Regions from separate parts of the Homo sapiens genome. Here region 2 is linked to region 1. A link means that fine-mapping ties the variant in region 1 to the expression of a gene that starts in the linked region. Tissue or cell type: whole blood. Region 1 holds a variant in brackets; the other region holds the start of a gene. All regions are shown on one strand. Distances are between the middles of the regions. Region 1 overlaps FBXO11 (F-box protein 11). Region 2 holds the start of MSH6 (mutS homolog 6).

Region 1 (8,336 bases):
TTTATAAAACACATTAAGAATGTACCCTTTGGTATTCAAATTATTATTATTATTATTATTTGAGATGGAGTCTCGCTGTGTCGCCAGGCTGGAGTGCAGTGGCGTGATCTCAGCTCACTGCAACCTCCACCTCCTGGGTTCACGCCATTCCCCTGTCTCAGCCTCCTGAGTAGCTGGGACTACAGGCACACACCACCATGCCTGGCTAACTTTTTGTATTTTGGTAGAGACGGGGTTTCACCATGTTGGCCAGGATGGTCTCTAACTCCTGACCTCGTGATCCCCCCACCTCGGCCTCCCAAAGGGCTGGGATTACAGGCGTGAGCCACTGTGCCCGGCCAAATTATTTTTTAAAAAGCTAGAAAATGATTATAATACAAATGCTTTTAGTGGGGAAGGAGGAGAATATCAGTTTTATTTTTATTTTTTTTTTTTGAGACAGAGTCTCGCCCTGTTGCCCAGGCTGGAGTGCAGTTGCGCGATCTCGGCTCACTGCAACCTCCGTCTCCTGGGTTCAAGCCATTCTCCGGCCTCAGCCTCCCGAGTAGCTGGGACTACAGGTGCACGCCACTATGGCCAGCTAATTTTTGTATTTTTGATAGAGACGGGGTTTCACAATGTTGGCCAGGATGGTCTTCATCTCTTGACCTCGTGATCTGCCCGCCTCGGCCTCCCAAAGTGCTGGGATTACAGGCGTGAGCCACCGGCGCCCGGCAGGAGGAGAATATAATTAGAATGGGAAACATAAAAGGCTTAGTAGTAGCTGGCAAAGTTCTAGTTCTTGCCTTGTTGGTATTACAAAGATAATACCTTAATAATAACTCAACAAGCTGTGTATTTGTGTTTTATGTAGGTTTCTCTACCTAGCTATATTTCATAATAACAAAGGTATAAAAAGGGGGGAGAGTTTGTAAAAGTGTAATATTTAAAAGTAGAGATTTCCAGTCAGCTAACCTTGGGTGTAAATTAACATTTTTAAGCCTACATTTTCTCATCTATTAAAGATAAGAGTATGTTATAATTGAAAGCTGCTAAAAACTTAAATATATGTAAAACACACAGTATGCCTGGGCTCATATGCAGAGTTCAAGAAGTATTTCAATTACTATTATTTCATTTAAATATTATTCGATTAACATCACTTTCAAATGAAACTTGGAAAAACAAGTAAATTTTTCTTTAAAAAAAAAAAAAAAAAAAGATACAGGGTCTCACTTTGTCACCCAGGCTGGAATACAGTGGCACAATCATGGCTTACTGCAGCCTGTATCTCCTGGGCTCAAGCAGCCCTCCCACCTTGGCCTCTCGAACAGCTGGAACTGCAGATGTGAACCACCACACCTGGCTAATTAAAAACAACTTTTTTTTGTAGACACAAGGTCTCACCATGTTGTGCAGGCTAGTCTCAAAACTGCTGAGCTCAAGTGATCCTCCTGCCATGGCCTCCCAAAGTGATGAGATTATTATAGCTGTGAGTCAATGTGCCCAGCTTGTAAATTTTCCATGTACTGCAGGAATCACAAAAAGCAGCCAGTATGATACGCCTAGGCATTTGTGGAACTCTCTCCCTTTGAGGTCTAATATGTGTAATTCTATAAATGTTTGTATATTAATAATATGACCAGTAAACGTCCTATGTGTGCTTGAAAGGAACATCAACACTAATTTTTAGAGTAGGGTTTAAACATGTCTAAAAAGATCTAGCTTGTTAATTGTGTTGTTCAAATAGTCTCTATGCTTACATTTTTTCACTTTTGTTGAGGGTGGTGGTGGTTTATTCATTGGCTTCTGAAGGAAATGTGCTGAAATCTCCCACCATATTTGTAGTTAATCTTTTTTTTTTTTTTGCCTGCAAATTTTTGCTTTATGTGCTTTGAGACAATATTATTTGGACACACAGATTCAAGATAACTATTTCTTCCTGGTGAATTATTCCATTCTTCATTATGTAATTAATGGCTTTCTTCATCATCTTCATTATGTAATGGCTTTCTTCATCACTAACAATGCTTTCTGCCTTACAAATCTATTTTTGGTCTATCAGCTTTCTGTTTTGGTTTGTGTCAGTCTAGTATTTTTTAAATCCTTTATTTTCAATTTCTTACTTTTATGGATTACATTTTAGATTTGCTGCTGCTTCTTCTTCTTCTTCTTCTTTTTTGAGATGAGTCTTGCTCTGTTGCCCAGGTTGGAGTGCAATGGCGTGATCTCGGCTCACTGCAACCTCTGCCTCCTGGGTTCAAGCTATTCTCCCACCTCAGCCTTCCGAGTAGCTGGGATTACAGGCACGCGCCACTACGCCCGGCTAATTTTTGTATTTTTAATAGAGACGGGGTTTCACTATGTTGGCCAGGATGGTCTCGAACTCCTGACCTCAAGGTATCTGCCTGCCTCAGCCTCCCAAAGTGCTGGGATTACAGGCATGAGCCACTGTGCCTGGCCTAGATTTGCTTATTCTTAACCATTTATTGCTAGACTTTTGCTTTTCAGCCAAGGCAAGAGTATCTGTCTAATCTGTAATTTAACCCATCTACTGCCAATTTCCATGATTATATTTTTAATTTCTAAAAGTTAATTTTTTCCAAGTTTTACTGTTTCTTTTTCACACTGATCTATTACCTCATTGCTTCATTTCCTTCTTTTATCCCTTCAATCATTTCACTCACATTTTATATTCTCTCTTAGATTGTTCTGTCATTGACTTTGTTCTTGAGTGAGCATTTGACTAGTGGGCACTTTTTCTAATCTCTATGCGTAATTAGGGAAGTTATTTCAGGCTCTAGGCCACATGCCTGGGTCTTTGTTTCAGATATATTTTGAAAAGGCCCAAGGCCATATATCCTATCCCCATATGTGCAATAAAATTCAACCCCAGACCCCTTAGAACATATGCAGGACCAAAAGCCCCCTGTGCTATATACAGCAACACTAGCTCCCGCTTACTGTTCTGATTTTATTTCTCTGATTTCTGATACCTATGAATTTTCCTCCTCTTCTTTCCTTCCTTAAAAGTTTAGTTATATGTTTATAGTTTTGTTCTTAATGCGTATTTCTTTTGTTCGTTTTGTTTTTGAGACAGGGTCTCACTCTGTCACCCGGCTGGAGTGCAGTGGTGGGATCTCGACTCACTGCAACCTCCGTTTCCCTGGCTCAAGCAATTCTCCCACCTCAGTTTACAGGTGTGCACGCCACCATGCCTGGCTAATTTTTGTATTTCTGTAGAGACATGGTTTTGCCATGTTGCCAAGGATGGGTCTCAAACTCCTGAGCTCAAGTGATCCGCCTAACTTGGCCTCCCAAAGTGCTGGGATTACAGGCATGAGCCACTGTGCCCAGCCCTTATTACATATTTCATTTTGATATGTTTGTAGTATGCATGCATGTGGGTTAATGTCTCTATCAGCTTGTTTGCCATTTCCTTCAGTAGTCAGTCCAATTCTACAACACTCAAAAGTACATTCTCAAACTTTTCATCCTATACAACTCCCTCCTCCTTTCCTCACCTTCACCTTCTTAAAATCTGTGGACCTTATTACTACAGACACCCACCCACCCCACCCTGGAATCCTTTGCTTCTCACCAAAGACACAGCAAATAGTAAAGACTGAAAAGTAAGGAATTCAGAGGTCCTAACAGGAAAGAGAAGGTGCTAATTAATTCATTTGCATCCTAAAATGTACAGCAAATAAATTCAAGAAGCTACATGATTTAAGTCATGAATACCACAGAAATCTCAACTTCCCACTTGTAAACACTGTCCTGAAGTGCTCATGAGTTATAAAATCACTGTTTTGAACTCTGCGCTGAAGAATATGTGCTAATTTCTACATAGTTCTCATATTAAATTACTACTGACTGTTCTGAGAATCAAGTACAGTGCCAGAAGTTACTTAAAAAGGGATCATTCTGGGAAGATAAGTTGGCTACTACTGTGATAAGCAGCAAAACAGAAAGCTTAAAAGAAATCTCTAGTCATTTGGGTTCGCTTCATCTTTTGAACTCCTGTAGTACTGAATATATACCGTATATACCTTACTATACCTTAGCTGCCTTATGTTATACTTACTTTTTTTATTATATGCCATATTTCCCTAACAAAATTATAAGCTCTGAGGGCGAGGCAGGGTAACAAGGGTGCCCTCTTTTATATTCTTCAGTGTTTAGCTTGGTGCCCAATCAGTACTCAATAAATACTGATTCCCATCAATGGAGAACCCTTTAATTTTACTCAATTCAGGGAGTTCTTCGTAGAAGCCATCACTAGTGGTGGCTTATCTCCTACTTTACAGGAAAAAAAAAAACCAAACAAGAACTGCCTTAACTTCCTTCCAACATCCAAATCCACAAATGCATTTACATGTAGATCCATTATTTTTTGT[C/T]CCCTCCTGAAATTATGGAGAAGTATTCCCCCAAAACAGACTTAGCATACATGAAACAAAAAATATTTGTTACATTAAATAAAAATGAATAAAGCCAACGATCCATGATAGATGCGGCAAACTGGCTCCAACCCAAGAAACACGAAATCATGGATTAGTTATGGTTTTGTGCCAACAAGTCTAAAAGCAAGACCTTAAAATAATTTTGGCCAGGCGTGGTGGCTCATGCCTGTAAATCCCAGCACTTTAGGAGGCCCAGGCGGGCAGATCATCTGAGGTTGGGAGTTCTAGACCAGCCTGGCCAACATGGAGAAACTCCGTCTCTACTAAAAATACAAAATTAGCCAGGTTTGGTGGCGCATGCCTGTAATCCCAGCTACTCAGGAGGATGAGGCAGGAGAATTGCTTGAACCTGGAAGAAGGCGGCTGCGATGAGCGGAGATCATGCCATTGCACTCCAGCCTGGGCAACAAAAACGAAACTGTTTCAAAAAAAAATTTTTTTTTAATTTTATGGTTTTCATTTTTATATCTAATAGAATATTATGCCAATGATTGTCAAGTTGTAATCAAAGACTTAAAAATAACCCTCTACCAAAAATGTTCAATTTTAACTATAATTCACAGAAAAATTTAGTTAGAAAAAATGTTCTAGACCAGAAATGTCCACCAGAAATAGAACGCAATCCACATATGTAATTTAGCTGCATTAAAAAATAAAACAGTGAAATTTTAATATACTTAACATATTAAATCTGAAATATATCATTTCAATATGTAAATATAAAATTATTACTGAGATAATTTACATTTTTTTCATACTAAATCTTTGAAAATAGTACGTATGTGTAACACAGCATGCCTCTATTCAGACTAGGCATATTTCAAGTGCTCAAAAGCCACATGCAGCTAGTGGCTACCCTTAATTGGACAATGCAGACACATACAGTCACTTATCACTTAAAGACAAGAATACGTTCTGAGAAGGCTGGTCGTGGTGGCTCACATCTGTAATCCCTGCACTTTAGGAGGCCAAGGAGGCACTTCATCTGAGGCCAGGAGTTCAAGACCAGCCTGGCCAACATGGTGAAACCCTATCTCTACTAAAAATAAAAGAAATCAGCCAGGTGTGGTGGTGGACACCTGTAATCCCAGCTACTCAGGAGGCTGAGCCAGGAGAATTGCTTGAACCTGAAAGGTGTAGACTGCAGTGAGCCGACATTGTGCAACTGCACTCCAGCCTGAGTGACAGAGTGAGACTCTGTCTCAAACAAACAAACAAAAAGAAATTAAGCACTTAGGCTATAATGGTATAGCCTACTGTTCCTAGGCTGTAAGCCTGTGCAGCATGTTACTGTACTGTACTGAACACTGTAGACAATTGTAACACAATGGTAAATAACTGCCTATCTAAAGAAAGTAAAAAGGTACAGTAAAAATATAGTATCATGGCTGGGTGTGGTGGCTCACGCCTGTAATCCCAGCACTTTGGGAGGCCAAGACGGGAGGATCATTTGAGGTCTGGAGTTTGGGACCAGCCTGGTCAACATGGTGAAACTCTGTCTCTACCAAAAATACAAAAATTAGCAAGGCATGGTGGCATACGCCTGTAGTCCCAGCTACTCAGGAGGCTAAGGCAGGAGAACCGCTTGAACCCAGGAGGTTGCAGTAAGCCAAGATCACACCCACTGCACTCCAGCCTGGGTGACAGAGCGAGACTCTGTCTCAAACGAACAAATAAACAAAATATGGTATCATAATTTTTTGGGACCACCATCATATACAGTCTGTTGTTGATGAAAACATTGTTATGTGGTGCGTGACTGTGTTAGACAGACTGTGTGTGTATATAAAAACACACACATATGGCCAGGCACAGTGCTCATGCCTGTAATCCCAGCACTTTGGGAGGCTGAGGCGGGTGGATCATGAGGTCAGGAGATTGAGACCATCCTGGCTAACACGGTGAAACCCCATCTCTACTAAAAATACAAAAAATTAGCCGGGCGTGGTGACGGGTGCTTGTAGTCCCAGCTACTCGGGAGGCTGAGGCAGGAGAATGCTGTGAACCCGGGAGGTGGAGCTTGCAGTGAGCTGAGATCGCACCACTGCACTCCAGCCTGGGCGACAGAGCGAGACCCCATCTCAAAAAAACAAACAAACAAACAAAAAAACAACCAAACACACACACACATATATATCTTTCACTAAACCTTTATCAGTTCTCTTAAAGCAGAGATCCCCAACCCCGGGGCCAGTTAGGAACTGGGCCACCCAGGAGGTGAGTGGTAGGCGACCAAGCAATACTGCCTGAGCTCCGCCTCCTGTCAGATCAGCCACAGCATTAGATTCTCATAGGAGTGTGAACCCTATTGTGAACTGCACATGCGAGGGATCTAGGTTGTGCACTTCTTATGAGAATCTAATTATGTGGTGCATGTCTGATGATCTGAGGTGAACAGTTTCATCCTGAAACCACCCACCCCTCTGAGTCCGTGGAAAAACTGTCTTCCATAAAACCAGTCATTGGTGCCAAAAAAGGTTGGGGACCACTGTCTTAAAGGATAAAAAGTTAATACGCAATTTAAAAGTATGCTATTTGCACACACATATATAATATCAAAATTTATTTTATAATTTCTAGATTTTACTACAAATCCTATGCTATAAATACACTACAATCTTCACTATTAATAGGAACCACAGAAATAAGTAAAGTCTTCTGGAAAATAAACATGTTTCTTTAATTAAAAAATAATCTCTGACATCTTTGATAATAAATGTAGCACTGAAAATTTATTTTAGGATTCAAATAAGATTCCTAACTGTCTTGACTCTATTTATTCTGAGCCTAGCAGAATACCTTTTTATATACCCTTTACCTTGAAAGTTTGCAAAAAATTATACTATTGATTGGCTGGGGTTTAAAGTCTACACATTTTAGGTTATAAAGTTAAGAGTAGTTTATGGAATTTAATTGACAGAAGTTTTTTTCCCCACAAATACACAAATTCCAATTTACTTACCCATAGTCACAGATCAGATTGGAAACTTAGGCAAATCTGTGCGACTAACAACTTTGTGTTTAGAAACAGCTCCCAGTCTCATGGCGTAAAGGAACCACACTTGACAACTGTTTCTAACACAGTTGGAAACTACCACAGCTTTTCTCTAACTGCTAAAAAAATTCACAAATGGAAATCAAGATAAAATTTAAATACTTATAAAGTTACATGGTTTACTTAAAATTTAAATATTTTATAATAGAGATCCCAAAAGTAAAGTTATAATTAAAAAAACTTTTTAAAAGCTTGACTTGCTGTAAGCAAATGTTTCTGATTTTATAGTTACATTTTAAAATTATTTATTTAGGATACTGTTACATAATACTTCCATTAATGTATTCAGTTATTAACACACATACGTTCTTACACTGAATTTTTGCCACCACAGGATCATTATACTTAAAATGACTTAAAAAATGTGCATTTTCGTTACTTAGTAACAATCTTCAAAAGCCAAATCTTGCCATGGACTGTGCTAGGTATTGGTGACACAGGTCAATCAAACAGAATATTGTATTTGCTCTTCAAGAGCCTAAGAGACAGACAACTAAACAGGCAGTAATAATGCAGTGTGTCACATGCTGATAAGGTTAAGCAGAAAGTATTGAGGGAATATTTAAGAACATCTAATCCAATCTTAGATGATGTGGGTATTGGTGTAAGATTTTCTGAAGAAAGTCCAAGCTAAGAAATGGATGACAACTGAGAGTCAGTTATGCAGAAGGAATAGTGTGTGTGAAGACCTGAAGGTGCTCATCTCCAGCACAGGTATCAAGGAACTGCCAGCTGCTCCATATGTATGGCTATACTATGTAGCAGAGGCCAAATTATAAAGGCTATTACAAACACTTAAAATAATTTAGACCTTATCTTAAAAACAAAATATGGTCACT
Region 2 (8,292 bases), 63 kb before region 1:
ACAGAAAATAAAATTATCAGGGTGTGAGGACGCACACCTGCAGTCTTAGCTGCTTGGGAGGCTGAGGCTGGAGGATCAGCCTGGGCAACAGAGTGAGACCCTGTCTCAGAAAAAAAAAAAAAAAAAGACAGACTTTTATTCAGATATGCATGCAGGAGTTCACAGAAAAAAAAAGTGAGTCCAGGAGGCTGTTATTTGGCATTTATACAACTTTTTTTTTCTTGAATCTCGAAATCTACTTTATATATACCATTTAATAGGGGAAGAGGAGGGAGAAAAAGCCTTCCATGGGAAGAACAAATAGGTTTCTGGGGGAACAAAAGGGAGATAAGAATGTTTGTTTTTGCAGGTGCAAGTGGTCTTTGTCTTTTTTTCTGGCCACTAAAACTCCCCTAGAGAGGAGATTTACGGCAGCTTCACTCCCAGAAATTTCTGCTGTTAGTCGCATAAGGGAAGCTTTGAAACGGCATCTTTCTGCATCTGTTGGCTCTCAAATGTCTTCAGTTCCAAGTAACATTCATGCCAATTCTGGGGGTCTGAGTGTCCCCACATAATACATGTGTTCTCTTGTCTTTTAATGAAGTTTGTGGGAGGCATCTAACTGTAGCCTCCAAAATTTGGCCCATAGGTACTACTGTCCTTATCAAAGACGAGGAAACAAGTTCAGAAAAGTATTAATTGCTCCGAGTTATCTGCTTGGCTAGCTAGGATCAGAGCTCAGTTCTCCATTTAACCCAAAGCCCAGGCTCTTAACCTCTTACAACTGGCGCATCCCCTCTGAACCTCCATTTCCTCCCTGTAAAAGAATAACATCGGCCGGGCGCAGTGGCTCACATCTATAATCCCAGCACTTTGGGAGGCAGAGATGGGCGGATCACGAGGTCAGGAGTTTGAGACCAGCCTGGCCAACATGGTGAAACCCCATCTCTACTAAAAATACAAAACTTAGCTGGGTGTGTTGGTGCCTGTAACCCCAGCTACTCAGGAGACTGAGGCAGGAGAATTGCCTTAACCTGGGAGGCGGAGGTTGTGGTGAGCCAAGATCGTGCCATTGCACTCCAGCCTCGGTGACAGAGCAAGACTCCATCCCCAAAAAAACAAACAACAACAACAAAAAGAGAATAACGTTATATTCAGTTGAACCAAAATGAATTAAATATTAATATTTGTACTTCAAAAACGGTCCAGCTTGGCTGGGCGCAGTGGCTCCCGCCTGTAATCCCAACATTTTGGGAGGCCGAGGCAGGAGGATCATTTGAGGTCAGGAGTTTGAGACCAGCCTGGCCAACATGGTGAAATCCTGTCTCTACTAAAAATACAAAAATTAGCTGGGCAGTAGTAGCGCGTGCCGGTAATCCCAGCTATTCAGGAGGCTGAGGAAGGAGAATTGCTTGAGCTTGGGAGGTGAAAGTTGTGGTGAGCTGAGACTGCACTACTGCACACCAGTCTGGGAGACAGAGTAAGACCCTGTCTCAAAACAAAACAACCAAAAAACCAAAAAGGTCCAGCTTGGGCAACATAGTGAAACTTCGTCTCTACAGAAAATTTTTAAAATACTAGCAGGGCACCGGGCACAGTGGCTCATACCTGTAATCCCAGCACTTTGGGAGGCTGAGGCAGGCGGGTCACTTGTGGTCAGGAGTTTGGGATCAGGCAGGCCAACATGGTGAAACCGTGTCTCTACTAAAAAACAAAAATTAGCTGGGCATGGTGGTAGGCACCAGTAATCCTAGCACTCAGGAGGCTGAGGCATGAGAATTGCCTGAACCCGCAAAGCAGGGGTTGCAGTGAACCAAGATGGCGTCACTGTACTCCAGCCTGGGTGACAGAATAAGACTCCTCAATTAAAAAAAAAAAAAATTAGCTGGGCATGGTGTTGCGGGCCTGTGGTCCCAGGTACTCAGGAGGCTGAGGTGAGAGGATTACTTAAGCCTGGGAGGTTGAGGCTACAGTAAGCCAAGATCACGCCACTATACTCCAGCCTCTGTGACAGAGCCAGACCCTGTCTCAAAAAAATTTTAAAAAGGGCAAATTTTGGCAATTTCACATAGTTCAACCTAGTATAAGGTGGTTGTAATAACTAAATGAGATAAAATGGTGTTAAATTGGAAGTATTATAGTATTTCTGTTAACAACATAGGGCTCCAGAACCAGCTTCCTTGAGTTTAAATCCAGGCTCCACCACTTCCTAGCTATGCAGTCATGGGCAAGTTACTTGACCCAACTGTGCCTCAGCTTCATCCATGATATGGAGATACAGGATAACCAGCCTCTTACGTGCAATTCTGAAATCCAAAAAGCTCTGTAAACCAAAAGTTTGGGGGTAAACTCATTTGGTAGCAAATTTTGACCTGAGGCTATTTATAGTCTATATTCTGTATTCTTTCTACTTAGTATGAATAAGCATGTAAGTTTTACTGCATGTTTGATTTCAGCATGTTCCCCCAGACTCTCTGGGGGTGTTTACGTATGCCGGTGGGGGAAAGAGACCAACTCTCAAATATTATCTCAAACAGTTGGTTTCACTGTGCTTGCTTGGGTAGCACATATACCAAAATTGGAATGACCCCTGCACAGGGATGAAATGCAAATTCGTGAAGCATACTGTATTTTTCTTAGCACATACCACCTTTGGCAATATTCTTTTTTTTTTTTTGAGAGGGAGTCTTGCTCTGTCGCCCAGGCTGGAGTGCAGAGGCGCGATCTCGGCTCACTGCAAGCTCCGCCTCCCGGGTTCACACCATTCTCCTACCTCAGCCTCCCCAGTAGCTGGGACTACAGGCGTGTGCTACCACGCCAGGCTAATTTTTTGTATTTTTAGTAGAGGCGGGGTTTCACTGTGTTAGCCAGGATGGTCTCGATCTCCTGACCTCGTGATCCGCCCACCTCCGCCCCCCCCCCGAAGTGCCGAGTGCTGGGACTACAGGCGTGAGCCACTGCGCCCGGCCCCCGCCTTTTTTTTTTAGATTGATTTTATTACTTGCCTAGCAAAGGAGAACCTTCTGGCAGAACAGTCTCCAAGAACAAGGCAAACAACTAATTTTACATAGGTTTTTACCAATGTACAGCTGTTGATTGTGACTGGTTTCCGGCAATCTGGATTTCACAATCTGGATAAGGGGACAAACAATTGTCTGTCTTCCACTATCTTTCTTGAATTTGAATAGAACCTTTTTATTCTCATAGCCTCTTAGCTTTCTTTCTTTTTTTTTTGAGACGGAGTTTCGCTCTTGTCGCCCAGGCTGGAGTGCAGTGGCGCGACCTTGGCTCACTGCAAACGCTGCCTCCCAGGTTCAAGTTATTCTCCTGCCTCAGCCTCCCAAGTAGCTGGGATTACAGGCGCATGCCACCACGCCCGGCTAATTTTTGGATTTTTAGTAGAGACGGGGGTTTCACCATGTTGACTAGGCTGGTCTTCAACGCCTGACCTCAGGTGATCCGCCCGCCTCGGCATCCCAAAGTGCTGGGATTACAGGCGTGAGCCACTGCGCCCGGCCTCTCATAGTCTCTTAGCTTTCTAAAATTTGAAAAATCCTGTAAAGACACACCTGGGTCAAAGGGCTCAGATAACGGACTGTGGCCCTTAAGTACTTACGTCACAGGTTATTGAGAGGATCGATTTAGTTACCAGATGTAAAATGCTGGGATCAGTGCCTGGCAAAGGAAAACTTTGTACAGCTGCAGGCTTTCACCATACACAACAGCATCGCTAACGAATGCTATTACAATATTCATTTAGCGTTTACCAAGTGCCTACTCTATACAAATCTTGAGAATACAACGTGAAGGTGAACTGCTGACTAAAGTTTGGTCCCTTTCGCTCCGTCTCCTTGCGAAAATGCTCTAACGGCAGGAGGTCACGCGAGCGCTGGACGCGTTTCTCCCCGCGAGCCCCTTTCCGAGGCCTTTCGGGTCCCCCCGGTTATCCCCGCCCGGGCGGTGCGCGCCCCCGCTGTTCCCGCTTCCGCTCCAGAGAGGCAGGGCTTTCCGAGCCTGCTAGCCCCGCGGCCGCAACTAACCCCGGGTCGGAGTGTTCCGGCCCGGCCAGCCCCGCGGCGTGAGGGAAGGGGAGCTCAGCAGTTCCCCGCGCGGGGCCCAGGCGTCGGCGGCAGGGCGGGCCCCTCACCGCCAGCGTGCCAGCCCCGCCCCTACCCACCAGTGTGCCAGCCCCGCCCTTCCCCACGTCGCCGCGCGCCCGGGGGCGGGGCCTGGCGCGCACCGCCCGCGCACGGCGAGGCGCCTGTTGATTGGCCACTGGGGCCCGGGTTCCTCCGGCGGAGCGCGCCTCCCCCCAGATTTCCCGCCAGCAGGAGCCGCGCGGTAGATGCGGTGCTTTTAGGAGCTCCGTCCGACAGAACGGTTGGGCCTTGCCGGCTGTCGGTATGTCGCGACAGAGCACCCTGTACAGCTTCTTCCCCAAGTCTCCGGCGCTGAGTGATGCCAACAAGGCCTCGGCCAGGGCCTCACGCGAAGGCGGCCGTGCCGCCGCTGCCCCCGGGGCCTCTCCTTCCCCAGGCGGGGATGCGGCCTGGAGCGAGGCTGGGCCTGGGCCCAGGCCCTTGGCGCGCTCCGCGTCACCGCCCAAGGCGAAGAACCTCAACGGAGGGCTGCGGAGATCGGTAGCGCCTGCTGCCCCCACCAGGTAGCGGGGTGGGGGTGGGGTCGAAGGCGGGGGCATAGCGGCGGGGCGCTTGGAACCCGGCGAGGGGAGGCTCGCACAGGGGGTTGGGGGGGTGCACGGCCTGGCCCTGGGCTCGGAGGAGGCGGGGCCGCAGAGTTGGCTTGAATGAGTGCAGGGGTCGAGTCTGGAGCATTTGGGGGTGTAGCTTGTAAACAGGGTCGGAGGAGAGAGGCTGTGCAGGAAGAGGGCTGCAGGGGAGACGCGGAGAGTTCGGGCCTTTTGGAGGGAGGAGACGCGTCCCGCCAGGTGGGGGTGCTGGGCTAAGGAAGGGGCGACGCGCGCAGCTCCGGGTGGGGAGGGGGCCTGGGAGGTGGGAGCACTGGGGGTGGGGCGAGAAGGGGAAGGCGCCCGGCCCACTTGGTGGGCGGGGCGGGGGGCGGGGTGGCGGGAAGGAGGAATGCCTGCGGGAGGCCGAACGGGGAGAGTCCGGTGGTGTGGGGTGCGAAAGGAGGTTCCTCGGCCGGCGCGGAGATAGTGAGTTGGGGCTCCAGTAGTCGATCGAGGTAGACACTTAGAGGTAGTTAAGAGCCGCGGTCGCCGAGACGCCTTGGGGACGGTGGGCCTTCGGCCTAGGTGAGGGGCCGCCGAGGGGGTGGGCCACGAGCTGCGAGCGCGGGGGGGTGTGTCACCATGGGGACCGCGGGGCCTAATTGGGCGGGGCGGGGCCGTGGGGAGCCGAAGTGCTGGGATCCGGCTGGGTCCTTCGGTAGGTAGGCTGCACGTGCACCGAGACGAAGATAGAATATTTTGACGTATGTGGAAATTCGTGTCGAGTGGAAAATATTTTATTTTATGAAATAGTGTAATTTTTATGGGGCACCACTGGGCTTTTAGAGGCCTTAATCGGGCGCTGGACAAAGATGTGTGGACGTGAGTGACTCCGGGGAAGCCTGTCGGGAGTTGTCCTCACTTTATGGGCAGTTAAGTGCTTTTTTTTTTTTTTCCTTTTTGAGAGAGAGTTTCGCTCAAGTCCAGGCTGGAGTGCAATGGCGCGATCTCAGCTCACCGCAATCTCCGCGTCCCGGCTTCAAGCGATTCCCCAGCTTCAGCCTCCCGAGTAGTCGGGATTACAGGAATGCGCCCCCACACCCCGCCAATTTTGTATTTTTAGTAGAGACGGGGTTTCTCCATGTTGGTCAGGCTAGTCTCGGAATTCCCGACCTCAGGTGATCCACCCGCCTCGGCCTCAAAGTGCTGGGATTACAGGCGCTAGCCACCGCGCCCGGTCTGTTTAGGGCTTTTTATCCGGGCAGCTGGCGACATTTTGAAAAGCTTGCTTTTGCTGTTTGCCAGATACATATATATGTATTTTGAGACAGAGTCTTGCTCTTTTGTCCAGGCTAGAGTGCAGTGGCGCGTTCTTGGCTCACCACAACCTCTGTCTCTGGATCAAGAGATTATCCTGCCTCAGCCTCCCAAGTAGCTGGGACTACAGGTGCGCCCCACCACGCCTGGCTAATTTTTGTATTTTTAGTAGAGACGGGTTTCACTATGTTGGCCAGGCTGGTATCGAACTCCTGACCTCTTGATCGGCCCGCATTGGCCTACCAAAGTGCTGGGATTACAGGCATGAACCACCGAGCCCGGCCGTTTGTCAGATACTAAACACAAAGTTTAATGGTCGCTATTTGAACAAACGAAGAAATAAAGGCTCAGAAAAAATAACTCATTCAAGATAAGAGCCAGTTCGTGTTTTTTGTTTGGTTTTGTTTTGAAATGGAGTCTCGCTCTGTCGCCCAGGCTGGAGTGCTGTGGCGCTTTCTCGGCTCACTGCAACCTCTGCCCGCCGGGTTCAAGTGATTCTCCTGCCTCAGCTTCCCGAGTAGCTGGGATTACGGGTGTGCCCACCGCGGTCCGGCTGATTTTTCACCATGGAGTTTCACCATGTTGGCCAGGCTGGTCTTGAAACTGCTGACCTCAAGTGGTCCACCCACTTCAGCCTCCCAAAGTGCTGGGATTACAGGTGTGAGCCACCGTGCCCGGCCGCTAGTTAGTGGTTTTGAGTAATGGATTTCAAATCCATTTAAATCCAGTTTAAAGTGTCCTAAAGGAATTCTGAGATTTTTCTAAGTGTAATTATAGTGTTACCCTTGTTTAAGCGACCCTTTCCCGCAGTTTAAATATATATAGTTGTGCATTAGTAGAATATGCTTGTGGGGAACAGAGCCAGCATCCGCAATAACAAACTCCTGGTTAGAAAAGCATGACGTATTGTTTACTTGAGCATGAATTGATTGTTGAATCCAAACCAAACGGGTGTATTTATTGTAAGGATGTACTTTACATTCATATTGAATAGCGTATGTTATTTGTTTCTTGAGGTTGAGTTTAAGAGACTTGTAAAAATAAAACGTATACATTTCACCTCCCGTTATGGAGAGGATTCCAGGGTATTCAAGAAAGATGGGCATTTGATACTAGGTTTCTAAAGAAACTGCAGTGTCTAGATCACTCTGCCGAGCACAGCATTAGGCATTATGGATCCTGGATACAACCATGAACAGGACAAAGCAAAGAGGCAATTGTAGACTCCAAGTGGAAAGGGGACGGAGAGGATGCGGGTCAGGCTAGGCTCTCAGCTCTGTAAACCGAAACCAGAAGGACAAATAAGCTTAGACAGATTATAGTGAGAGTGGGAAGCTGGTTCAGGAAGAGGAAGGTCTGCAAATTGTGGGTAGGATGAAAGGAGGAGGAGGGAGCATTGGAGAAGTTAAGCAGAGATCCAATCATGAACAGTCTGATGAGCTACAGAGACATTCGGACTTACTCCATGAATCATTTAAGCCTTAAAACATGTTGAGCGTATTTTTTTTTTTTTTGAGACGGAATTTCACTCTTGTTGCCCAAGCTGGAGTGCAGTGGTGTGGTCTCAGCTCACTGCAACCTCCGCCTCCTGGGTTCCAGCGATTCTCCTGCCTCATCCTCTCAAGTACCTGGTATTACAGGTGCCTGCCACCACGCCCAGCTAATTTTTGTGTTTATAGTAGAGACGGGTTTCACCATGTTGGTCAGGCCAGTCGTGAACTCCTGACCTCAGGTGATCCACCCACCTCAGCCTCCCAAAGTGTTGGGATTACAGGCGTGAACCACCGCACCTGGCCGTGAGCCACCGTGTCTGTCCGAGCATCTTTTAATGTTTGTCATTTAGATTTCTTCTTGTGCTGAAGTGTTTGTCTTTTGCTGTTTCTTTTTTTTTTCCTAGTTCTTTGTCATTTGTGTGTGATATAAATGTCTTCTTTCACAATGAGTTCTTTCATTTAGTTTATGGCTTTGTTGTTGTTGTTGAATAATAGAGGTCTCACTTTGTTGCCCAGGCTGGTGTTGAACTCTTGCTCTCAAGCGATCCTCCCACTTCAGCCTCCCAACCTGTTGGGATTACAAGTGTGAGCCACCACACCCAGCCTTATGGCATCTTTCGATGAACAAATTATTGATTATAATGTGGAATTTGTCCTTTTATTTTCTCTGTGGTTAGTGTTTCTATAGGTTTTATTTAAGAAATCCACAGGGAGGCTGGGTGCAGTGGCTCATGCCTGTAAACCCAACACTTTGGGAGGCCAAGGCAGGCCAACATGGCTAGACCCTGTCTCTCCAAAAAATAAGAAAATTAG

Evidence for each region.
Region 2: MSH6 starts here. The variant in region 1 is fine-mapped to the expression of MSH6 in whole blood (INTERVAL, PIP 0.90).

Annotation. Positions count from the first base shown.
Region 1 is chr2:47,841,599-47,849,934 of GRCh38, forward strand. All of the region lies in intron 1 of FBXO11 (F-box protein 11), which reads right to left. Among named protein-coding and RNA genes, the nearest start is that of FBXO11, 61 kb to the right of the region's middle. The variant C/T (reference allele first, on the strand shown) is at 4,380.
Region 2 is chr2:47,778,852-47,787,143 of GRCh38, forward strand. It overlaps MSH6 (mutS homolog 6), which reads left to right and starts at 4,294. Exons shown (of 10, transcript NM_000179.3): 1 at 4,294-4,642. The coding sequence starts at 4,383. RefSeq lists silencers at 2,535-2,716, 3,867-4,346, 4,627-4,786, 4,987-5,076 and an enhancer at 3,667-3,736.